2 separate regions of the Homo sapiens genome follow, and region 1 is linked to region 2. Evidence: fine-mapped expression QTL. A gene starts in region 2. The other region holds a variant in brackets. All regions are shown on one strand. Distances are between the middles of the regions.

Region 1 (8,000 bases), 71 kb before region 2:
AGGAGGATCCCTTGAGCTAGGGAGGTCAAGGCTGCAGTGAGCTATGATCACACCACTGCACTCCTGCCTGGGCAGCAGAGTGAGACCCCTGTCTCTTAAGAGAGAGAAAGAGGGATGAAATGAGAGTGAGTAGTCAGGGGTCACAAGAACAGAGTTTGAGAGGGACTGGGGGCCAAGGGGAAAGAGCTAGCAGGACACTGCCAAGGCCAGACCACCCACTGGGCAAGGACCCCCCCCCTCCCCCCAACCCCGCATCCCTTCCCCCATGGTGGTCACCACTGGGCAGAATTCTTCCCTTCAGAGGCCGAGGGTCAGGCAGTCACAAGTCCCAGGTGGTCCTGAGCATCCCCAACAGGAACCAGATGCCCTCACTGCAGTGAGTGACCATAGCCCTCTCCTTCTCTTCCCAGCCTGATCCCTGGAACACGCATGTCTGGAAAGGCACCAACGGGACCCCCACAAAGCGGCGAGCCATTGGCTTCAAGAAGCTAGCAGAGTAAGTTTCGTGCAGTGGGCGGGTGGGGTGGATGTCCCCACAAACTCAGAGAACCCAGAGAAGGAGGCTGGGCAGACTCCTGTGCCCTCTGACCTCTCTACAGAATATGATTTCTTCATCTTCTTCAGCCACCTGGGCCTTCTTTGCCTCTGAGTCTGAGCTGTGAATGTCGTTCCAACTCTTCTCCTTCTCAGCCTCACTTTCCTCACACTGGTTTCCTAAATTCTTGTCCTGGGGGCAATGGTGTGTTGGTGAACCAGCCCTCCTAATAATAATAATAATAATAATAATAATAATAATAATAATAATAATAGTAATACCTTGATTTTCATGTTTGCCAGTTTCCATGATGTAAACATTCCCACTATGACCAATTTCTTTTCTTTCTTTCTTTCTTTTTTGAGATAGGGTCTGTTCCCCAGGCTGGAGGCGTCTCACTTTGTTGCACAGGCTAGTCTCGAACACCTGGCCTCAAGCGATCCTCCTGCCTCAGCCTCCCAAAGTGCTAGGATTACAGGTGTGAGCCACTACACCTGGCCTAGGAAGTCACTGAACCCAGACTAGGGAGGAGCTGGAGTTAGTCAGCTCCAGCACACTACTGCCTGGAGAGCACCCTCGTTCAGGGCTGACCCTTAATTTTACTCATTCATTCATTTACTCATTCATTCATTCATTAGTTGGGTGTCGCAGCACACGCCTGTAGTTCTAGCTACTCAGATTCTGTGCCAGGCACTGTGTGAGGCTTCAGGGGGATCATGGCAAGCTAGACAAATGCTGTCCCTGCTGTCATGAAGCTCACAGCCATTCCTTTGTCAAAGAATCAACAAATACAGTAAACATGGCAGCTGTGGAAGGTACCATCGAGGAATGGTTCCTGGAAATAATAATGGTTCACGGAGTTTGGGAGGTCAGGGAGGGCTTCCTGGAGGAGGTGACAATTGAGCTAAAGAATGAGATTAAGAAAGTTTAAGCAAAGAGGGGAAGGAAGGGGGTTATGGCCTGAGACTACTGAGGAGTGATTTTCCTGAAGAATGCCTGACCAGCCAGAGGACCAGCTGACAAGTAGGATGGGGTTAACTAAGTTGATTTAACGGGGATGCCAGCCTTCTGCCCCAAAAAAAAGAGAACCCCACTGATCCACTTACCAAAGACCACTGTTTGGAGCTAACTTTTTGTCAGAAGACACTACTCTGTTTCCTCAGCTCCCTCAGGTCCAGAATTCTCTATGTATGATAACTAGTTGTACAACAGGTGTCATCTAAGCCATGGGCCCCAGAGACAAGACACTGGTGGGTCTTGCAGGGACCCAAACCTAGGTCCTGGCTCCATTAATAGAGCCCATAGAATCAATCAATCTCTCTCTCTCTCTCTCTCCTCTCTCTTCTCTCTCTCTCTCTCTCCCCCTCCCCCTTTCTCTCCCTCCCTCCCTCTCCTCTCTCTGTCTCTCTCTCTCTCTCTCTCCCTCCCTCCCTCCCTCTCTCTCCTTCCACCCTAATCCCATCCCCCAGCCAAGCAAGAACACATCAGCAGCCACCATTTCCCTAACAAGAATATCTCAGATATTCTCAGGGAGGGCAATTGTTGGCTTCAGTTCAGCTCCACTGTCTCTGGGGGGAAAGGGGAGGGAGAAATCTAAAACATTAATTACACTATTAAGTTTTGGGTAGTAACAATGGGAATTAATTATAGATGCATCTTTATGCTCAAATTATTCAAAGGGAACCCTCCAGGTACCTTTTATTCCTTTCTGTTTCTTCCCCTTAGCTAAGTCTTCCTGCATCGTGGGCGGTTTCCCTGATTCTAAAAAATAATGAACTTAACGCCGATAATCCCAGGTGGGGGGAAGTTAGCGATTTGTCTGCACTGAGATTTCTAGTTACAACAGGGAGGCTTGTTAAGGAGTCGAGCCTGGGTATTTCTGAGCCTCTGGCCTGTCTGCTAGTGCCCCTGGAACTCGCCCTGCCCAGTAGAGCAGAAGGAAGAGACACTGGTTTGGGCTTCTCTGTTTAGTTAGAAAGAGGCTGGATTTGATGTTCAGACTTCCCAGGGTCTCAGTGGCAGCATCTTTTAAAATTCATAACTTCTTTTATTTCTTTTTTGTAGAGACAAAGTCTCACTCTGTTGACCAAGCTGGTTTCAAACCCTTGGCCTCAAGTGATCCTCCCGCCTCAGCCTCCCAAAGTGCCAGGATCACAGGCATGAGCCACTATGCCCATCCCATAACTTCTTTTGATAGATATTTATTTAGTGCCTGTTGGGTATCAGGCTCTGTGCAAGACCCTTGACATGCATTGCTGAATAAATCAGACCTGGTCCTTCCCTTGTGGACCAATAAACCTCTAAATCCCATCAAACTCAATGCCTGGTGACTAATTCGTGATTCATTTCTCTCTCTCTTTCTCTCATTCACACATGTGCATACACACACACATTAGAATATGAGCCCTATGACAGCTGCATTCCATAGCTATGTTCTCTGTGGTCTCCATTTCCTATAACAATACTGACACATAGTTAAGCACTTAATAAATATTTGATGAATGAAAGAGAGAGGAAATGGATGAACGATCATCTTTTGAGGCAATGCTTGGCAAACCAAGGTTCTTAAGCCTGGGATCAATCAAGTAACAAGCTAACAAAACTAACTACTCCTTTTAATTCATGACTAATTGCTCTGGTGGGATTTTTTTTTTTTTTTTTTTTTTTTTTTGAGGCAGAGTCTCACTCTGTCGCCCAGGCTGGAGTGCAGTGGTGCCCAGTGGTGCGATCTCGGCTCACTGCAACCTCCACCTCCTGGGTTCAAGCAATTCTCTTGCCTTAGCCTCCCAAGTAGCTGGGACTACAGGCGCACGCTGCCACTCCCGGCTAATTTTTTTGTATTTTAGTAGAGACGGAGTTTCACCTTGTTGCCCAGGCTGGTGGCAAATTCCTGAGCTCAGGCAATCCA[C/T]CTGCCTCGGCCTCCCAAAGTGCTGGGATTATAAGCATGAGCTACCACACCCGGCCTCTGGTGGGATTTAATAAAGGATTTAATATCCAGCATTATCTCTAGAGAAGTTAAAAAATAAAATAAAATAAAGGATTTAATAATACTTTAATAATACGGTGCTTAAACACAAAGACTTCAAGTGCCTCTGAGGAAACCCCTGAAGCCATCAAAGATCAAGAGAGTTCTCTTCTGTTATATTTCATGGATCCTGGTTCTTGCACGAAAGTCCCAATCCAGCATCTTCTCTCCCCTTTTCTGTTGCCCATTTTTCATCTCCATCCTCTTCCCTCCAGAGCTGTCAAGTTCTCGGCCAAGCTGATGGGGCAGGCTATGGCCAAGAGGGTGAAAGCGACCATCCTCTATGCCACAGAGACAGGCAAATCGCAAGCTTATGCCAAGACCTTGTGTGAGATCTTCAAACACGCCTTTGATGCCAAGGTAGGTGGGGGGTAGCCCTAGCTCCACCAGCTTCTCATGGTGAATTAAGGCAGGAAGGGGAGAGAGGGAAGTCAACAGAGAAGAAGCCTTTGGCAAAGGATGAAAGCACACCTGACAGGGCCTATCAGCTCACATACACATTTGCATAAATTTCAGGGGACTGTGATATCCCTGTCCCCATGAGTCCAGGAGTCACAAAATGAAATTCCCCTCTTTAGAGCAAAATGTTAGAGGGTTTATAAGAAACCATTCTGAGGTCAGTTTGGGAAGCTTTGCCTGAAGTACAGCTCGATGGTTTTTTGGTTTTGTTTTTTTGTTTTTTTGTTTTTTGTTTTTTTTTTTTTTTGAGAAGGAGTTTCACTCTGTCACCCAGGCTGGAGTGCAGTGGCGCGATCTCGGCTCACTGCAAGCTCCACCTCCCGGGTTCACGCCATTCTTCTGCCTCAGCCTCCCGAGTAGCTGGGACTGCAGGCGCCCACCACCACGTTCGGCTAATTTTTTGTGTTTTTAGTAGAGACGGGGCTTCACTGTGTTAGCCAGGATGGTCTCGATCTCCTGACCTCTTGATTCGCCCGCCTCGGCCTCCCAAAGTGCTGGGATTACAGGCGTGAGCCACCGCACCCGGCCAGCTCGATGGTTTTCATTGCTGTGGCAGGACTTCCCAGAGCCTGTAATCTATAAGCATGTGTTCTAATCTCCAAAAGAGGCGAGGATAGAATATAGACGTTTCCCAAACATGTTTGATCGTGGATCGCTTGTTTTCATGGAGCATCTCAGGAGACTGGGATTTTCTAGAACCTATTTTGAGAAATGTTGCTCAGACGATGATGAGACACAGGGCAATCATCTTTCCAGAAGGCAGATATCTCAGACTTGTTTGGCCAGGTGCTCCACACTGCTCGGGGGAGGATTAGAGAGGAGGTTGAGAAGACTTAGTCAGCTCTAGCCAGATCATTCCCGGCCTAACTGGGGTCAGGAAGAATCCAAGACCAATTGACTATAAGAATCCCATGGGATTCCATCAAGCTGTGTTTCTAGTATCTGCCAATCCCTTGAACCATTGCTTCAGATTCTCCACAACCCTTCAGGCCACAGTGACCATAGCAAGGTCCCACGCTACCAAAAAGCGTTTAGTTCTACCCACTTGAGCCCACTGAAGTACTAACACCTCAGATCTTTTGGTTCTCCTTCCAAAGGAGATGACCCAAAATGACTCACATTTTTCCTTTCTCTCCTCTTGCCCTTCCCCCATCACTTTTTGTCTCTCCCACCTCTTTTCTCTCCTCATCCCCTTCTTCCTCTCCCCATCCTATACCTGTGCCCTGCCCACCTAGGTGATGTCCATGGAAGAATATGACATTGTGCACCTGGAACATGAAACTCTGGTCCTTGTGGTCACCAGCACCTTTGGCAATGGAGATCCCCCTGAGAATGGGGAGGTGAGATGAGCTTTTACCTGTTCAAGAGTGTGGTTCCATCATCAGGAAGAAGTAGGGGCCAAGGTTGAGACTCTTCCTACACCTGCTATTCAGTAGCAAACCCTCCCAGAGCCTGAAAGCCAGTAATTTCCATTTGGATCCAAGTTATACAAAGGTTGGACAATTCCAAGTACTCAGTCTACTGGCGTCCATTAGTTAGCAAGTCCCTGGTGAAAATATTGTCACCTAAGTGAGCTATTTGTTTGCAGTGGCTGCTCCTATCATTAGCTTGATGTTCCCTGATGTAGATGAGGAACATGGGGACAATATTTTTATAGAAGGAAGGCTCCAACGGGAAGTTGTGTGCTGGGGGTAGGGAGTCCACACCTGTAGTCATTTAAACAGCAGGTGTATCCACTGCGTCTGTAGCCCAGGCATTACTGTCCAGCCTGAGCCCCTGACCGCTCCTGACATCCTGGCCTCCGGGCATCAGTCTCCTCTTTGACAGCCAGGACCCCAGACCCTCAGTATCCGACCTGATTTCCCATTTACTAAGATGTGCTAATTTCACCCATATGTTTTGGCTTCCAGAAATTCGGCTGTGCTTTGATGGAAATGAGGCACCCCAACTCTGTGCAGGAAGAAAGGAAGTAAGTGAATGACCCCTCCGACGTCACCCGCCACCCCCGAGGGTAACTGGACATTGACTTTTGGCACCTGGGGTTCACATTTGAGTTCTGGATGGTGGCTGTAATCTGAAGTCCATTTGTAATGGGTCTTAGTTGTGAGGTGTCTGCAGTCTACTGGGGCAAATATTTTGGTATCTGGGTCACTTCACAGCCTTGTGCCTCAGTTTCCTTTTCTATCAAATAGAGATTATAGCACCTACCTTGACTTTCTAATTAGTAAGAATCAAATCACAAACTAGATGTAAAAGCACTGTGTGCTGGGCGTGGTGGCTCACGCCTGTAATCCCGGCACTTTGGGAGGCCGAGGCAGATGGATCACAAGGTCAGGAGTTCGAGACCAGCCTGGCCAACATGGTGAAACCCCATCTCTACTAATAATACAAAAATTAGGCGGGCGTGGTGGCGCATGTATGTAATCCCAGCTACTCGGGAGGCTGAGGCGGGAGAATCGCTTGAACCTGGGAGGAGGAGGTTGCAGTGAGCCAAGATCGCACCATTGCACTCCAGCCTGGGCAACAAGAGCAAAACTCCATCTCAAAAAAAAAAAAAAAAAAGCACTGTGTAAATATTATTCTTTTTCCCTCTTTGAGAACCTACATTCAAAATCAGTGCAAGGCAGTCAGGCATGGTAGTGCACACCTATAGTCTCAGCTACTCTGGAGGCTGAGCCAGAAGGATCACTTGGCCCCAGGAATTTGAGGCCAGCCTGAACAGCCAGACCTGTCAAAAAAAAAAAAAAAAAAAAAAAAAGCTAAAATCAAAGAATGGAACTTCTTTCCTTAAAAGCTTCCTGTCTGATGCTCACAGTGAAGTTGCAGCTAATCTAGAAGTTGAGTTCAAAAGATAAGATACCTTGTAAGACAAAACATACCTGTAGTCAAAAATATGTTTGTAATGGAACCGCATCTAATGTGGGATTGAGTTCTAAAGGTATTTGGTAAAGTAAAAAAGCATCTAATCAAACTTACCATTGATGGCTGGGCACGGTGGCTCATGCCTATAATCCTAGTGCTTTGGGAGGCTGAGGCAGGAGGATTGCTTGAGGCCAGGAGTTCAAACCAGCCTGGGCAATATAGCAAGATCCCATCTCTACAAAAAAATTAAAAATTAGCTGGGCATGGTAGTGTGCACCTGAAGTCCCAGCTACTCCAGAGGCTGAGGCAGGAGGATCACTTGAGCTCAGGGGCTTGAGGCTACAGTGAGCCATAATTATACCACGGCACCCCAGCCTAGACAACAGAGCAAGACCCTGTCTCTAAAAAATAAAAATAAAAAAATTTTTTTTGAGATGAAGTTTCGCTGTTATCACCAAGGCTGGAGTGCAATGGCACGATCTCAGCTCACTGCAACCTCCGCCTCCTGGGTTCAAGCGACTCTGCAGCCTCAGCCTCCCGAGTAGGTGGGATTACAGGCACACACCACCATGCCTGGCTAATTTTTGTATTTTTAGTAGAGACAGGCTTTCACCATGTTTGCCAGGCTGGTCTCGAACTCCTGACCTCAGGTGATCTGCCTGCCTCAGCCTCCCAAAGTGCTGGGATTACAGGCCTGAGCCACCGCACCATGACAAAAAAATTTTTGTTAATGACCCTTGAAAAGCCCTTGCATCCCCCATAAGGTATAGGACACATGGTGTGTGCACGCTGAGCTGCCTTTCCATGAGGCCAACTCAGTATTTGCTCCAGCATGGAGCAAGCAGATCCCTGTGTCTTAAGGTGAACATCAAATGCTCTAGCTGGCTGGTGTTTTTTGGCTGTGTTAAGCAGAAAATCCCTTCTGAGGCCAGACACAGTGGCTCATGCCTGTAATCCCAGCATTTTGGGAGGCTGAGGCGAGAGGATCACCTAAGGTCAGGAGTTCGAGACCAGCCTGGCCAACATGGTGAAACCCGTCTCTACTAAAAACATAAAAATTAGCTGGCCATGGTGGAGTGCACCTGTAATCCCAGCTACTCAGGAGGCTGAGGCAGGAGA
Region 2 (17,168 bases):
GGCCAAGGCAGGAGGATTGCTTGAAGCCAGGTATTCAAAACCAGCCTGGGCAACAGTGCAAGCTCCCATCTCTATAAAAATTTTTTTTTAAATAGCCAGGCATAGGCCAGGCGCGATGGCTCACGCCTGTAATCCCAGCATTTTGGGAGGCCGAAGCAGCTGGATCACCTGAGGTCAGGAGTTCAAGATCAGCCTGGCCAACATGGTGAAACCCCGTCTCTACTAAAAATACAAAAAAATTAGCTGGGTGTGGTGGCAGACATCTGTAATCCCAGCTACTCAGGAGGCTGAGGCAGGAGGATTGCTTGAACCCAAGAGGTGGAGGTTGCAGTGAGCCAAGATCACACCACTGCACTCCAGTCTGGGCAACAAGAGCGAAACTCTATCTCAAAAAATAAAATAGCCAGGCATGGTGGCACACACGTGTAGTCCCAGTTACTTGGGAGGCTGAGCCAGGAGGATGGCTTCATCCCAGAAGTTCAAGGCTGCAGTGAGCTATTACTGCTCTACTGCACTCCAGTCTGGTCAACAGAGCAAGACCCTGTCTCCAAAACAAAAAGAGAGAGAAAGAGAGAATGGGCATACAAATTTATGAACATGCACACGGAAGAGGCCCACCAAAAGATTACTCACCTCCCCGCTGCCATGGAGTTTGGAAACTTATTAACATCTTAAAATTACAGAAAGAATGGGAGCTTGGATCTTGGCAAAACAGGTGTGGACAGTGTTGAGGGTAGTTGAAATGGTATCTGCGGCTAGATTGTGGAGATTTCACTGGAGAGGGGTGTTGACCTCGCCAGCCAAAAATAACGAGAAATTCATCTGTAGTCCAACAAAGATAAGTTTTTACCTTGCTGCAGCAAGGGAGAGGCCACCCTAGAGGACCACTGGGAAGCCAGGGAGGAGGGATCCCAGAGGGACTTATTCTAGGATTTGAGTTTGTGCAGGGTGATTTTAGCAGGGACTGTGGGATAGAGCAGGAACTCCCAAGCATGGAAATGAAGAAAAATTTTGAGTTCCTTCAAGGGAAATTCCAGGCACCTCGCTAGTAATTCCAGGCACCTTGCTGAGAAGTAAATGAGTGACTTGATAAGCAAGAAGGTAATAGTAGCTCAAAACACTAGCAAGAAAGTTAGAATCATGGGATGTCTGGTTCGCTTACAGAAACTAAGGATAGTGTCTTAACACACGTCTGTGGGTTGTTTTTCAGGATCCCAGACCCCCACCAAACAGACCCACTGGCCGTAGACCTCACATAAAGAGAAACTGAGGACCGAACCCTGACCACTGTTTTTTGTTCTAAATTTCTTCCTGTGGGGTCTAGAGGAGATCACGGCTACCAGCCAGAGCTAACATTCTTTACTGCAAATCTCAATTTTTTTAGACAAAGCTTCACCTCCTTAACCAAATACAAGTCAAAAAATCTTTGAATCCAGGGCCCTGCACAGTGGCTAACGCCTGTAATCCCAGCACTTTGGGAGGCCAAAGCGGGCGGCTCACAAGGTCAAGAGATCGAGACCATCTTGACCAACATGGTGAAACCCCGTCTCTACTAAAAATGCAAAAAATTAGCTGGGTGTGGTGGCGTGCGCCTGTAGTCCCAGCTACAGAGACTGAGGCAGGAGAATCACTTGAACCCAGGAGGCAGAGGTAGAAGTGAGCTGAAATCGTGCCACTGCACTCCAGCCTGGCGACAGAGTGAGACTGTGTCTCAAAAAAACAAAAAACAAAAAACACAACAACAAAAAACCTTTGAATCTACCTATGACCTGTGGGCCTCTGCTTCCAAATGTCCCGCCTTTTTAGGTCAAACCAATGGATAGCCTCCATGTAATTGATTTATGGCTTTGCCTGTAACCTCTGCCTCCTTGCCTTTAAAAACTCTTACCTGTGGGCAGGCACGGTGGCTCACGCCTGTAATTCCAGCACTTTGGGAGGCCGAGGCAGGTGGATCACCTGAGGTCAGGAGTTCAACACCAGCCTGGTCAACATCATGAAACCCTGCCTCTACTAAAAATACAAAAATTAGCCAGGTGTGGTGGTGCATGCCTGTAATCCCAGCTACTCAGGAGGCTGAGAAGCAAGAGAATCGCTTGAACCTGGGAGGCAGAGGTTGTTACAGTGAGCTGAGATAGTGCCATTGCACTCCAGCCTGAGCAACAGAGCAAGACTCCGTCTCAAACAAACAAACTAAAAAACTCTTACCTGTAAGCCATCAGGGAGTTTGAGTCTTAAACCATGAGCTCCCCAATTCTCCTTGATTGGGGCCCTGCAATAAATGCCTCACTTTCCCTCACTGCAATCCCAATGTCAGTGTTTGGCTTTGCTGTGCAGGCCAAGAGGACCCCAATTAGGTTCAATTAGGGTTGAGGGGACCAGCTGGATATAGTCAGGGCGTGAGGCCAGTTCAGCAAAAGGGTATCCTAGGGGAAATTTAAAAACAGAGTTTTCCCTATGCCAAAAAGGAAAGAGACTCATTCCCTTCTTCCTTTCTTGGAGAATTTCCTTGAGAAAATTTGTGTTTGTAATTATATCTTCTGTCCCTTTGATAGGTATGTAAATCTTTTGTGTGTGCGCCATTCTTTCATACAATCCCACCGGGCCCTGGACACTCTCACCAACATCCCATACTTCCTTCTCCCCTTCTGTACATTTCATGGACCCCAGGGTAGGAGGGGCTGGGTGAGGGTTCGGGATCCCCCTCCTGCCATCCTAACTAAGCATCTGGGGTACCAGCCCTGCTGCCAAGTGATCTTGTCCCTAGCCCTCTCTCCCCAGGCTGGCATGAGTGTGTGTTTGTGCCAAGCTTCTATTTCATATTGCAAATATAAATCAAGGAAAACAATTTAAGTTAAAATGAAAGAAAAAGAAGGCTGGGCGCCATGGCTCACACCCGTAATTCCAGCACTTTGGGAAGCCGAGGCGGGAGTTCAGGAATTGGAGACCAGCCTGCACAACATGGTGAAACCCCATCTCTACAAAAAAAAAATGCAAAAATTAGTCGGGCTTGGTGGTGTGTGCCTGCAGCCCCAGCTACTCAGGAGCCTAAGGTGGGAGGCTGGCTTGAGTCCAGGAGGCAGAAGTTGCTGTGAGCCGAGATGACGCCACTGTACTCTAACCTGGATGACAGAGTGAAACTCTCTCTCAAAAAAAAAAAAAAAAAAAAGAGGCCGGGCGCGGTGACTCATGCCTGTAATCCCAGCACTTTGGGAGGCTGAGGTGGGCGAATCACCTGAGGTCGGGAATTCGAGACCAGCCTGACCAACATGGAGAAATCCCATCTCTACTAAAAACACAAAATTAGCCAGGTGTGGTGGTGTATGCCTGTTATCCCAGCTACTTGGGAGGCTGAGGCAGGAGAATCACTTGAACCCCGGGAGGCGGAGGTTGCAGTGAGCCAAGATCCGGCCATTGCACTCCAGCCTGGGCAACAGGAGCGAAACTCCATCTCAAAAAATAATAAAGAAAAAAGAAAGAAACAAAGAAAAGAGAGAGAGGAAGGAAGGAAGGGAAAGAAAGAAAGAAAAAAGAAGGAAAGAAAGAAAGAAAGAAAAAAGAAGGAAAGAAAGAAAGAAAGAAAGAAAGAAAGAAAGAAAGAAAGAAAGAAAGAAAGAAAGAAAAAAAGCCAGCCAGGCATGGTGGCTCACGTCTGTAATCTCGGCACTTTGGGAGGCCGAAGTGGGTGGATCACCTGAGGTCAGGAGTTCAAGACCAGCCTGGCCAACATGGTGAAACCCCATCTCTACTAAAAATACAAAATTAGCTGGATGTGGTGGCACATGTCTGCAATTCCAGCTACTTGGAGGGCTGAGGCAGGAGAATCTCTTGAACCCGGGAGGTGAAGGTTGCAGTGAGCAGAGATCATGCCACTTCACTCCAGCCTGGGTGACAGGAGCAAAACTCTGTCTCAAAAAAAAAAAAAAGAAAAAAAAGAAAAGAAAAGAAAAAAGAAAGAAGAAGGAAAGAGAGAGAGAGACGACAGAAAGAAAGAAGAAAATAAAAAGAAAGAGAAAAGAAAAAGGAGACTGCCACTGTCCACATTCTCCATATTCTTCCTCTGTTTTATCTCTTTCTTCCCAGTACTTATCACTGCCTAAGGATAGCACTGATGAGTCCTGATAGTATTGGCGGTATCCGCTGTCACCTATGCTAATATCTCGGCTCTGTGACCAGGGCATTTGTGACTTTACCCTGTTCACCTTTGTACCCACATTGCCAAAAACAGAGCAGTCACTAAATTTGGGTTTATTTGTTACACAGCAATACTAACTGATGTATATGTCTTATTTAATAGCAAGATAGATTTTTATCCCTGTTTTATAGATTAGGAAACTGAGGCTTACAGAAATTAACCTCTGTTGGGCATTTGGTTATGGATGGTGAGGGAGAAAGAGGTAGCAAGGATGGTGACAAGTTCATGTTTTACAGGAATGGATGAATGAGTAGCCCTTCCTAAGGCAGGAACTACTAAGAGAAGACAAGGTAAAGTGGAGAAGAAAGATCATGAGTTTCCTCCTGGATAAGTTGAGTTTGAAGGGCCCAAAGGGAATGGCAGGTGAGCAGGCTAAGCCAGACTAGATCCCAGAGGAGCGGGTGGGGCAGAAGAGAGAAATGTGGATATTTCGATTGGATCTGGATCATCATTCGAGTTGTGGACAGAGGCAAGATAGTGAAAGAAGAGGGCTGGCTGAGGCCCAAGATACCTCAACATGTAACATCTGAGTGGCTGCAAAGAAGATGGAGAAGGTGCAGCCCCAGAGGTGAGAGGAGAACCGGGAGACAGTGGAGTCACAAAGGCTTTGTCTTGTCTTGCTCTGTCACCCAGGCTGGAGTGCAATGGTGTAGTCATAGTTCACTGCAACCTTGAACACCTAGGCTCAAGTGATCCTCCCACCTCAGCCTCCCGAGTAACTGGAACTACAGGTTTAAGCCGCCATGCTGGTAAAATTTAATCATTTTAAAGAGAACAATTCAGTGGCATTTAGTATATTCCCAATGCTGTGCAACCACCACCACCACCTCTATCTACTTCCAAAACATTTCCATCACCCCAAAGTAAATCCATATCCAGGCCAGGCACGATGGCTCACACCTGTAATCCCAGCACCTTGGGAGGCCGAGGCAGGTAGATCATGAGGTCAGGAGTTCAAGACCAGCCTGGCCAACGTGGTGAAACTGTCTCTACAAAAATACAAAAATTAGCCAGGCATGGTGGCATGCTCCTGTAATCCCAGCTACTCGGGAGGCTGAGGCGGAAGAATCTCTTGAACCCAGGAGGCCAAAGTTGCAGGGAGCCGAGATCGTGCCATTGCACTCCAGCGTGGGCAACAGAGTGAGACTCTGCCTCAAAAAACAAACAAACAAACCAAAAAACCCATATCCATTGAGCCATTTCTCCCTGCTTCCCACACAGTTTTGTCAAGCAATTTTTTTTTCGTTTCGTTTTTTCTGAGACAGCATCTTGTTCTGTCACCCAGGCTGGAGTGCAAAGGCATGATCTCGGCTCACTGCAACCTCCACCTCCCTGGTTCAAGCGATTCTTCTGCCTCAATCTCGCAAGTAGCTGGGATTACAGGCACCTGGCATCATGCCCGGCTAGTTTTTGCATTTTTGTAGAGATGGGGTTTCACCATGTTGGTCAGGCTGGTCTCGAACTCCTGACCTCAGGTGATCTGCCTGCCTTGGCCTCCCAAGGTGCTGGGATTACAGGTGTGAGCTACCGCATCCGGCTCAAGGATTTTTTCTATACCAGCCACTGTTCTATGCCCCTCACATGAATTTCCTCATTTAATTCTCATGACAGCCCCAGGAGACAGGCATTATTATTATTAATTATTATTCCCATTTTACAGATAAAAAACTGGGCCTCAGAAAGGCTAAGTAACTTCCCTAGTCAAACAGCTGGTTAGACTATCGCAATCAATAGATAATTGAGAATCTGCTCTGTGCAGGGCATGGGTCAAGTAACTAGGCTTCTAGAGGTGACTCAGACACAGTCCTAGCACTGAACTCCCTTCAGATTTAGTGGGAAAGATGCATGTTGAATAGTTGTAAGTTAAGTAATTACAAGACTGCAAAATGCTGGGCAGGAGCCATATCTGGTGCTGGTGCTGGGGCGGGGGAAGGGAGAGCATTTGGAAAGGTTAAGCTGAGCCCTGGAGGAAGAGGAGGAGCTACTGGAAGGGGAGGACTGCATGAAGTGCCTTGCAGGCAGCAGGAATAGTATATGTAGGGCCAGAAATGGGAGGAAAGAGATGACCAGCCTTGCTGGGGTATGCATGGCTAGTGAGAGAGAAAGACTTCAGATAGGTAAGAAGAGGTGGAGTTTGTTGCTTTGCAACAATGTTTGGGATGTCACATTCATTTCTACGGGAAATAGGGAGCCACAGATGGCTCAACGCCATCCATTGAGAGTCACTTTACTAGTTCAGCTCTCTCAGGGCATCTTGATTTCCAAGTTGCCAGGAGTACTTCATTGGACCCTCCATGTACTGACAACAGATCCTTCTAACTGTAATTGCACTTTGAGGTTTTGAAGCAAAGACTCCATTTTTCTCACCCCTGTATCCCCAGGGCACACAACACAGGGCTTTGGCACTGAACTAAACTGATTTTTTTTTTTTAATGTGCAGATCCTGAGACTACCCTCCCAATCCTGAGTGATAACTCCCGCTTTGAAGACTCAAATCCAGGCTTTAGCACTTTTGTCTCTGTAACTTTGAACCAGTGACTGCCACCTGGAAGAACTTTGCCTTTTCTGTAGAATAGGTATAACTGTGGTACCTATTGTGGGAGGTCAGACTATGCTCCCCAAATATGAAGGATTGTTGAGCTGGAAACAATTAAGAAACCAGTACAGGAGAGCTCTCTGCCTGCCCTCTATTAGCCTAAAATCAGGGCACACATTTGAGGATTATTATTACTCCCCTACACCATCATAGAGGGCTTCCCATAGCACCCACTCAAGAATATTGTTATTATTACATCATATGGTTAAGATTACTGACAAGCAAAAGTCAAGTGGATCTGAAATAGAATCCAAGACAAGGGGCTGGGCGCGGTGGCTCACGCCTGTAATCCCAGCACTTTGGGAGGCCGAGGTGGGTGGATCATTTGAGGTCAGGAGTTCGAGACCAGCCTGACCAACATGGTGAAACCCTGTCTCTACTAAAAATACAAAAATTAGCTGGCTGTGGTGGCGGGCGCCTGTAATCCCAGCTACTCGGGAGGCTGACGCAGGATAATTGCTTGAACCAGGGAGGTGGAAGTTGCAGTGAGCCGAGATCACGGCCACTGCACTCCAACCTGGGTGGTGGCGCGCGCCTGTAATCCCATCCGCACGGGAGGCTGAGGCAGGAGAATCGCTTGAACCCAGGAGGCAGAGGTTGCAGTGAGCCGAGATAGCGCCACTGCCCTCCAGCCTGGGTGAGAGCAAGACTCCTTCCCAAAGGGGGAAAAAAAATCCAAGACAAGGGATCCTGAGCAAGCCCTCTCACTCTCCGAACCTGTTTCCCCATCTGTAATATGGGGAGAAAGTTCGCAGGGTAATTCGGAAAGGTCCAATGCGCACAGAAAGCGCTCAGCACGCGTGAGAATAGATACCATTTTTATTTGTTAATTTTAAACATTAATTACGTTTAAAAGAATCAGTGCTACTATTGTTGTCCCGGACTAGAGGCGGCTTGCGCTGCCGGCTCCAAGCACAGAGCCCAATTATGTCCTCCCTTTTGCGGCGCTGCCACCCGCGCAGCCCCCAGCCGATGCAGGGGAGGTGTGGCCCGCGGATGGGCGGAGCGATCTCAGGACTCGCCCCCAAGACCAGTAGGCGGGGCCAGGCGGGGCGCCCGGGCACTCTCGCACGCGCGCGCGCGGCGGCCCCAGGTACGCGGACAAGATGGCGGCGGCAGCAGTCGACAGCGCGATGGAGGTGGTGCCGGCGCTGGCGGAGGAGGCCGCGCCGGAGGTAGCGGGCCTCAGCTGCCTCGTCAACCTGCCGGGTGAGGTGCTGGAGTACATCCTGTGCTGCGGCTCGCTGACGGCCGCCGACATCGGCCGTGTCTCCAGCACCTGCCGGCGGCTGCGCGAGCTGTGCCAGAGCAGCGGGAAGGTGTGGAAGGAGCAGTTCCGGGTGAGGTGAGCCAGCGGCCCCGCGCCCCGGCTGCGCGCCCACCGCCCCGCGCCCCCCGGGGCCGGGCAGCCGCCCCGCTAGCTCCCCGCGGCCGCCCCGCGCGCGGACCCCACCCCGGACCCCTTCCCGCGGACAGACAGACAAAGGCCTCCAGGCCCCGGACCCTGCGGGGCCACGCCAGGCGGACCCCCGGGTCCCCAAATGGCGCATCTAGGAGCGCCTCGCAGCCGGGTCCTCCGTCAAGGGTGACGCTGGCGGCGGCGCGGCTCGTCCCTTTTGCGCGCTTCTTTTGTGCCCGACTTCGGGCTGAAATGTTTACATGGACCCAGTGATGCATCGATCGGGCGGGCGCAGCATCCCCGGGCTGGTTGTGGACGGCACAGATTTCAGCGTGGCCCCAGGATGAAATCTGGCCCTGCACACTCCCTCTGTGACCTTGGGGGGAGCGACTTCCCTTTTTTTGAGCCTCGTTCATAGACTTTGAGTGGTGGTGATCATTAGACCTACCTTTCACCGTGTTTATTAAATTAGATGATGTCCGGGAGGCACGCACGCAGGGCCCCGGCTCCTAGGAGGCGCTCAATCAGTGCTCACTGTCATTGTCATTATTATTATTGTTGTTGTTGTTACAACTGTCCCCATTTTAGAGATGGGGAATGGAGACATCATTCATGCCGCTACGCCAAGGTCACACCGGGAGTGAGTGAGTGAATGCTGGTGGGGTTTTGAACTAGGTCTCTCGCCGGGGTCCCTCTTACCACTGGACGCCACTGCTGTCCCTGTTTCCAAGGCTGCCTTGGATTCGTGGCCGCCTGCCTTTGAGTTTCTGTTAAGCTGAGGGGGTGTTTCTCTCCTCGTAGGTGGCCTTCCCTTATGAAACACTACAGCCCCACCGACTACGTCAATTGGTTGGAAGAGTATAAAGTTCGGCAAAAAGCTGGGTTAGAAGCGCGGAAGATTGTAGCCTCGTTCTCAAAGAGGTTCTTTTCAGAGCACGTAAGGATCTGTTGATGTGGCTCTAAGCTTTGGCTTGCTGGTGTATGTGTCTGGGTCTGCAGGCATGAGCTCATCCAGCTCTTTTCGTATCTCCCTTTTCAATGCTCTCACAATCCCTTACTCACTTAGATGGCTGCAAGAGTCATTGTGTCCTTTTCCTCCTATCCAACAACACGAAGCCATTTGTCTGTGCCAGCTTTACTTTTCTAAAGCCAGAGAGAGAGTGGGGGTGGAGGGAGCAGGGAGGGACCCACGCAGCACAATGTAGACGGAGTCCAGATCAGCATTATTTCTCAAATGGGTTCAACGGATTTTTTTTGCAACCCCTCCGTTATTTGGGGAATCATCAATGATTGAACACTGTAAATTTCTCCCGGTTGTTTTCCCAGAAGGGTTGACGAAATTAATGTGGTTCTTCTCTCTGGCTTTGCAGGTTCTACCCAGTAGTGAACTGCATTATTTGTTAAGGTAACAGAGGATTAAAAGCTACCTATAAATCAGAGTTATTACTCCCTGAAATGAATTGTCTTGCATTCATTATCCCTGAAAAGTTTTTGGGTTTTTTTTTTTTTTTAAGTATTGCAGAAATACATGGTGGGTTTTTTTTGTTTTGTTTTGTTTTGTTTTCTTTTTTTCTTTCCTCAAAATGTCTCATGGAAGTTTCTTTCTTTTTTCTTTTTTTGAGACAGAGTCTTGCTTTGTCTCCCCGGCTGGAGTGCAGTGGCGCAATCTCAGCTCACTGCAACCTCCTACTCCTGGGCTCGAGCAATTCTCATGTCTCAGCCTCCCGAGTAGCCGGGACTACAGGCATGCGCCACCATACCTGGATAATTTTTGTATTTTTAGTAGAGTTGGGGTTTCACCATGTTGGTCAGGCTGGTCTTGAACACCTGGTCTCAAGTGATCCGCCGGCCTCTGCAAACCAAAGTGTTGGGATTACAGGCGTGAGCCACCGTGCCTGGCCTCACGGAAGTTTCTGTATCTGCCCCTGATCCCTTTTTGTAACTCTGGAAAATAATCCACACTAATGTTTTGAGTTCAACAAACTATTCGATATTTATTTCTGGTTGGGGTTCTAGAAATAGAGCCAATCTGATTTATTTCACTTTTTTGTTTTCCTAAAGACTCCTTTGGATTCTCTAATTTTAATTACTGTTAGTTAATGGAGTTAATAATTTGAAATGTTTTCAAGGCTTTTCAAGTTTTGAAAGGGAAAATTTGAACTTTGGACAAATTTGAATGTTTTCCCCTATGGAGAATACAAATAGACATTCCTTAGTGTAATTGGTTTCTATAAATATTTATTAGTGTTAGAATAAACAAAATTTGTATTTTACTTTGGAGAAGCCATGCCCTGGCTAAAAGCATTCATAATCACAAATTGTAAATGCTGATCTGAATGTGTTTGCACATACGTAGATTTTGGTACTAGCTATGTTTGGTGCAGTTGGTCATGGACTATGAGCCTGCAACCTCCATTTCTAGTCCAGCTGGTTTTGTGTATGTTTTGAACAGTCTGTGCCTCTGTGTAATAATGATGGATTGTTGTGTTTTTTCCTCAGCTCCCCCTTTTCCTGTACCACTGCTTAATTAGAAGTATGTCAAGGACTTTGAACACAGCGGGAGCATACTTAACATTAATCTGTGGGTGGGTGATTGCTTTGGCCCGGGATCTTGGCGTTCCTGTGTTCTCAGAATGCACACAGGTTGACCTGAAATGTTCTGGCTACTTGCAAAAAGAAAACTGAGAGAAGCCATAGAATTTTAAACTCAGAAGATCTTTTTTTTTTTTTTTTTTTTTTTTTTGAGACAGAGTTTCACTCTTGTTGCCCAGGCTGGAGTGCAATGGTGTGATCTCAGCTTACCGCAACCTCTGCCTCCCAGGTTCAAGTGATTCTCCTGCCTCAGCCTCCCGAGTAGCTGGGATTACTGGCATGCGCCACTACGCCTGGCTAATTTTGTATTTTTAGTAGAGATGGGGTTTCTCTATGTTGGTCAGGCTGGTCTCGAGCTCCTGACCTCAGGTGATCCGCCCACCTCAGCCTCCCGAAGTGCTGGGATTACAGGCGTGAGCCACTGCACCTGCCGCCGCCGCCTTTTTATTTTTTTTAAAACGGAGTTTCATTCTTGTTGCCCAGGCTGGAGTGCAATGGCGCAATCTTGGCTCACTGTAACCTCCGCCTCCCGGGTTCAAGTGATTCTCCTGCCTCAGCCTCCCAAGTAGCTGGGATTACAGGCATGCCTGGCTAATTTTGTATTTTTAGTAGACATGGGGTTTCACCACGTTGATCAGGCTGGTCTCAAACTCCTTACCTCAGGTTATCTGCCTGCCTTGGCCTCCCAAAGTTCTGGGATTACAGTCATGAACCACTATGGCCGGCCAGAGCTAGTTTTCTTTACGTTAGAACTGTGAGTTGTCAGTTTCAGAAATTCCAGTCTATGAAAACATCATTGATTACAAACAACAACAAAACCTCAGTAAATTATTGTTACTTTATGTTATTTTCTACCCATGACTGGTAGTGCAAGGTAGTGTAGAATAACTGTTAGCACTGTCTTTAGTAGTGGACATCTTTATTTCAGCTCAAATTTGTGAGAGTGAGAGTTGCATCAATACTCATAATTGAGGCCTACTTGTATATGTCTTCTTCATAGGTTCCTTGTAATGGCTTCAGTGACATTGAGAACCTTGAAGGACCAGAGATTTTTTTTGAGGATGAACTGGTGTGTATCCTAAATATGGAAGGAAGGTAAGCCATAGCTTTAGCAGGGATTTGTTTGCTTTAATAAGTCCAGAGTAAATTGCTGTAATTTCTGTGTGGCTAAACCCTGGAATATGTGATTCCAAATATTTCACGCCTTGTCATAGTTACAGTTTTGAAAAGTTCTGTGTATATTAGGTAGATACACCAAGACAATTGACATATAAAGAAACCTTACAAAAATCCTTTTGGAAAGAAAATGGAATTAATGTTTAGCACTACTATGGGTCAAATACTGTGCCCCAGACCCTTGTATCTGTTGTGTTGTTTAGAAACCTTTTGGTAATAGGCCAGGCACGGTGGCTCACGCCTGTAATCCCAGCACTTTGGGAGGCCGAGATGGGCGGATCACCTGAAGTCAGGAGTTCGCGACCAGCCTGGCCAACGTGGTGAAACCCCATCTCTACTTAAAAAAATACAAAAAATTAGCTGGGTGTGGTGGTACACACCTGTAATCCCAGCTACTCGGGAGGCTGAGGCAGAAGAATCATTTGAACCCGGGAGGTGGAGGTTGCAGTGAGCCGAGATTGCACCATTGCACTCCAGACTGGGGGACAAGAGCAAGACTTCGTCTCATAAAAAAAAGAAACCTTCTGGTAATATAAATCATCCTTCCTTCATTATTACCTCTCCACTTACTATCAGATTTGCCTATCATGAATTGAATCTTTTAATTTAAAAATAATAATTTCTTAGGCATGTCTTAATTTAATGGATGATTTTTTACAATTTCTGAATTGCGGTACAAAATAATCTACTTTGTTCTTTGAACACTGTAGATCTTTGGGTGAGCCTTTCTTTTATCTTCCAGTCAGAAAACTGCGTACTTAGGGACTCACTTGATCAAGAAGAACCCCTTATGTCTTGGTTATTGCTTAAAATTTCATATACCTTTTATTTTCTGCTGTGAAGGTTAATTTCCAGTTTTTCCCTGAAAGATGAGTGGGCTTCCAGCCTAACTTTCCTGTGGAAAAGACTTTCTGTTCTAAAAGTTCTGAAAACTTTCTAGTGATGGAAGATAAGAATGTTAGTTTAACATCTTCCTTAAAAGGAATCTTTGCGAAATATCTCACAAACAAGGCATGAAATATTTATGTTGTTTTTTAAAGGGGATTTAGGAGAGAGAAATATCTATCAGTGGAACAACTGTGGGTAGAGGTAAGATGTGTCACTATTCTAGGCCTTGGATGAGTTCAGATGCAGAGGTCATTTTTCCATTTCTATTTTGGTTTATCTATAAATGAATTGAAGTATGATCTAGTAGTCAGTATTGTGCAGTCTTAAAAATAAAAGCTGACTTGTGTTTTTTAATGTGCATATGTACTTTAAAATACATAAATGGGACCTCATACCTACTTTGTTGGTTGTTTTGGTTTGGTGTTTAGTACAGACCTGGTTTTTCTCTTATTTATGCTGTTTCCTTTTTCCTCCCCATTCCCTCTGTTTACATTGTCCTTTCCTGCCCCCACCTCTGTAATTCTTGATAACAGCCCAGGTTGCATTCTTCTTGCTGACAGTGATGAGTATGGGAAGGGATCATTATTGCACAAAATTGGGATCACATAATAGGTACTTTTCTATATTGTTTTTTCTCATTCAACAGTACCTTATGGAAATCCATCCTCTTCAACGGGTAAAACATCAAAATCACTATTGTTAATGTCTACTTACTCTTTTGTGGTATGTTACATAATTTATTTACTTATTTTTATTTTTTTGAGATGGAATTTCGCTCTTGTAGCCCAGGCTGGAGTGCAATGGCGTGATCTTGGCAACCTCTGCCTCCTGGGTCCAAGAGATTGTCCTGCTTCAGCCTCCTGAGTAGCTGGGATTACAGGTGCCCACCACCACACCCAGCTAATTTTGTATTTTTAGTAGAAACGGTGTTTCTCCCTCTTGGTCAGGCTGGTCTCAAACTCCTGATGTCACGTGATCTGCTGGTCTCGGCTTCCCAGAGTGCTGAGATTATGGGCGTGAGCCACCGTGCCTAGCCTACATAATTTTCCTATAGATGGACAACCACTTTTTTTTCCATTTTGTGTCACTGTGAGGAGTGATGTTTCTAGGCAGTAGAGTCCTGGGAATGGGTTTCCCAGTTCAGACTATAGGATGTTATTGAAAGACATAAAATAGATAGCATGTCCTGGAATGTGAAGACTTGCTATCACAAAAAATGTCAGTTCTCCCCAAATTAATTTATAAACCTAGTGTCATTCCAATTAGGATTCAAACAAAGTATTTTTGTTGGGGGTGGTGAGCAGGGGGGAGTTGTTTTGCTTTTTTCTTTTCTTTCATTTGGATGTCATAAAATATATACAGAAGACTAAATTCACAAGAAGAGCCAGAAAACAATTTTTCAGTAATCATAATGGGAAACTGGCATCACTAGATATTAGGCCATCTTATAAAGCTACTTATAATCCAAACAGCACAGTGATTCAATAAAAATAGCTGCATCAGTAGCAGAGGATAATTGACAAATGCATCCCAGAATAAAAGATAATTTAATATATTTAAACTCAGAGGGAAAAAATGGATTTTTAAAGAAATGGTACTGGACATAACTGAATATCCAGCTGGAAGAAAGGAAAACGTGCATCATATGCAAACATTTTTCCAAAGGATGAAACAACTGAAATTTTTAAATGATCACAGTGAACATTCCTCAAGAAAATAGGAGACTTTGTATAGTCTAAGGGAGACCACCTTAACCAAGAAGGACAATGCGGAGACAGTGAAAGAGCAGACACTTCTATATGGCCAAGAGAGCATGAACGAAGTCAGTAGAACTCAAGAGATATTGAAAAATGTTCAAAGGTTAGGAGGATGACATTCACAGAAGAACAAATCCTAACATCTAACAATCACGGAAAACTTTTAATACACTATTCAAAAAGTGTTAAATAGGCCGGGTGCAGTGGCTCACGCCTGTAATCCCAGCACTTTGGGAGGCCAAGTCCTTGGATCATCTGAGGTCAGGAGTTCGACACCAGCCTGGCCAACATGATGAAACCCTGTCTCTACAAAAAATACAAAAATTAGCCAGACATGGTGGCAGGTGCCTGTAATCCCAGCTACTGGGGAGGCTGAGGCAGGATAATTGCTTGAACCTGGGAGGCGTGGGAGGCAGAGGTTGCAGTGAGCCGAGATCGCGCCATTGCATTCCAGCCTGGGTGACAAGAGTGAAACTCCGTCTCAAAAAAAAAAAAGTGTTAAACAGCAATGAGATACTGCCATTTTACATATCAGGTTCCCAAAAAAGATGAAAATGCATAGCTAGTAAAGACATATATTATAGTGTTTTTAGAAATAAATACGAATAGGTTACCCAACACACATATTTTGACCTTAAAAAAGGATTGTTTGTTTTAGAAACAGAGTCTCACTCTTGTCACCCAGGGTGGAATGCTGTGACGCAATCATAGCTCACTGCAGACTCAAACCCCTGGGCTCAAGTGACCCTCCTGCCTCAGCCTCCCGAGTAGTTAGGACTACAGGCACTTGCCACCACACCTGGCTAATTTTTTCTATTTTTTGTATAGATGGAGTCTTGCTTTGTTGCCCAGGCAGTTACTAAACTCCTGGCCTCAAGAGATCTTCCCAGCCAGGCATGGTGGCTCACGCCTGTAATCACAGCATTTTGAGAGGCCGAGGCGGGTTGATCACTTGAGGTCAGGAGTTCAAGACCAGCCTGTCCAACATGGTAAAACCCTGCCTCTACTAAAAATACAAAAATTAGCTGGGCATGGTGGCACACGCCTGTAATCCCGGCTACTCGGGAGGCTGAGACAGGAGAATTGCTTGAACCTGGGAGGCTGAGGTTGCAGTAAGCTGAGATTGCACCACTGCACTCCAGCCTGGGCGACAGACTCGGTCCAAAAAAAAAAAAAAAAAAAAAAAGATCCTCTTGCTGTGGCCTCCCAATGTGCTGGGATTACAGGTGTGAGCCACCACGCCCAGCCCTGTTTGTTTTTTTGAGACAGGGTTTCATCCTGTTGCCCAGGCTGGAGTACAGTGGTGCAATCATGGCTCACTGTAACCTTGAATCCTGTGTTCAGGGGATCCTCTGGCCTCAGCCTCCTGAGTAGCTAGGAATACAGGCATGTACCATCATGCCTGGCTAATTTTTATTTGGTAGAGACAGTGTCTCACTATGTTTCCCAGGCTGGTCTTGAACTCTTGACTTCAAGTGATCCTCCCACCTTGGCCTTCCAAAGTACTAGGACTATAAGTGTGAGCCAACAAACAAATAAGGTTGTTTTTAAATGATAGAATACCCCGCATTTAAAAATATTTTGGGATACCAGTTTTCATGGAAGACCCTGTTTGTTTTCATTCCTGGCAAATGCTTATGGTTTGGATATGGAAAGCATGGGAAGGAAAAAGTGTAGTTTCCATAAATGCCAAAGTATCAGCTTGAAATCAGTTTGTGTTTATGATGTGCTATGTGGTCTTAAAAACGAGTATGTCCTACAATAAAGATTAGAAACAGCATATTAAAAGGGCATACACTGGGCCAGGCACAGTGGCTCACACCTGTAATCCCATGACTTTGGGAGGCTGAGGTGGGCAGATCACCTGAGGTCAGGAGTTCGAGACCAGCCTGGCCAACATGGAGAAACGCCGTCTCTACTGAAAATACAAAAAATTAGCCGGGCATGGTGGCAGGCACCTGTAATCCCAGCTACTCAAGAGGCTGAAACAAGAGAATCGCTTGAACCTGGGAAGTGGAGGTTGCAGTGAGCTGACATTATGCCGCTGCACTCCAGCCTGGGTGGCAAAGTGAGACTCTGTCTCAGATAGATAGATAGCTAGATTAGATAGATAGATAGATAGATAGATAGATAGATAGATAGATAGATAGACTGTCTCAGATAGATAGATCGATCGATCGATAGACTGTCTCAGATAGATAGATAGATATAAATAGATAGATAGATAAATTCATACATTGTACCTGAGAAAAGTGTCACAGAATGACCAATACTGAGACATACTTTAGTAAAATTGCTGGATTTTAAAGACAGGAAAGTCCTTTGAGCATCCAAGCAAAAAAGGTAAAGTCATTTATAAGGAAAAGAAAATAAGAATATCATCAGACTTTTCAACAGAATTTTTTGTGCCAAAGGAAAAAATAGCTTAAGATACTCAATGATCTAAGGAAATGTCAACCAAGGATTTTTATATCCAGCCAAACTGACTTCCAGATACAAAGACTGCACAGAAACTTAACAACTTAACAAGAATTCAGTGACTTTTCAGTCCTTCCTGAGAGATCTCCT

The links.
Region 1: its variant is fine-mapped to the expression of FBXO21 in whole blood (TOPMed, PIP 0.99).

The regions. Positions count from the first base shown.
Region 1 is chr12:117,256,385-117,264,384 of GRCh38, reverse strand. It overlaps NOS1 (nitric oxide synthase 1), which reads left to right. Exons shown (of 29, transcript NM_000620.5): 13 at 411-496; 14 at 3,776-3,920; 15 at 5,255-5,359; 16 at 5,930-5,988. Among named protein-coding and RNA genes, the nearest start is that of FBXO21, 70 kb to the right of the region's middle. The variant C/T (reference allele first, on the strand shown) is at 3,444.
Region 2 is chr12:117,181,183-117,198,350 of GRCh38, reverse strand. It overlaps FBXO21 (F-box protein 21), which reads left to right and starts at 7,881. Exons shown (of 12, transcript NM_015002.3): 1 at 7,881-8,133; 2 at 8,989-9,124; 3 at 11,780-11,874. The coding sequence starts at 7,895. RefSeq lists silencers at 7,665-7,724, 7,765-7,864, 8,145-8,194 and an enhancer at 8,665-8,754.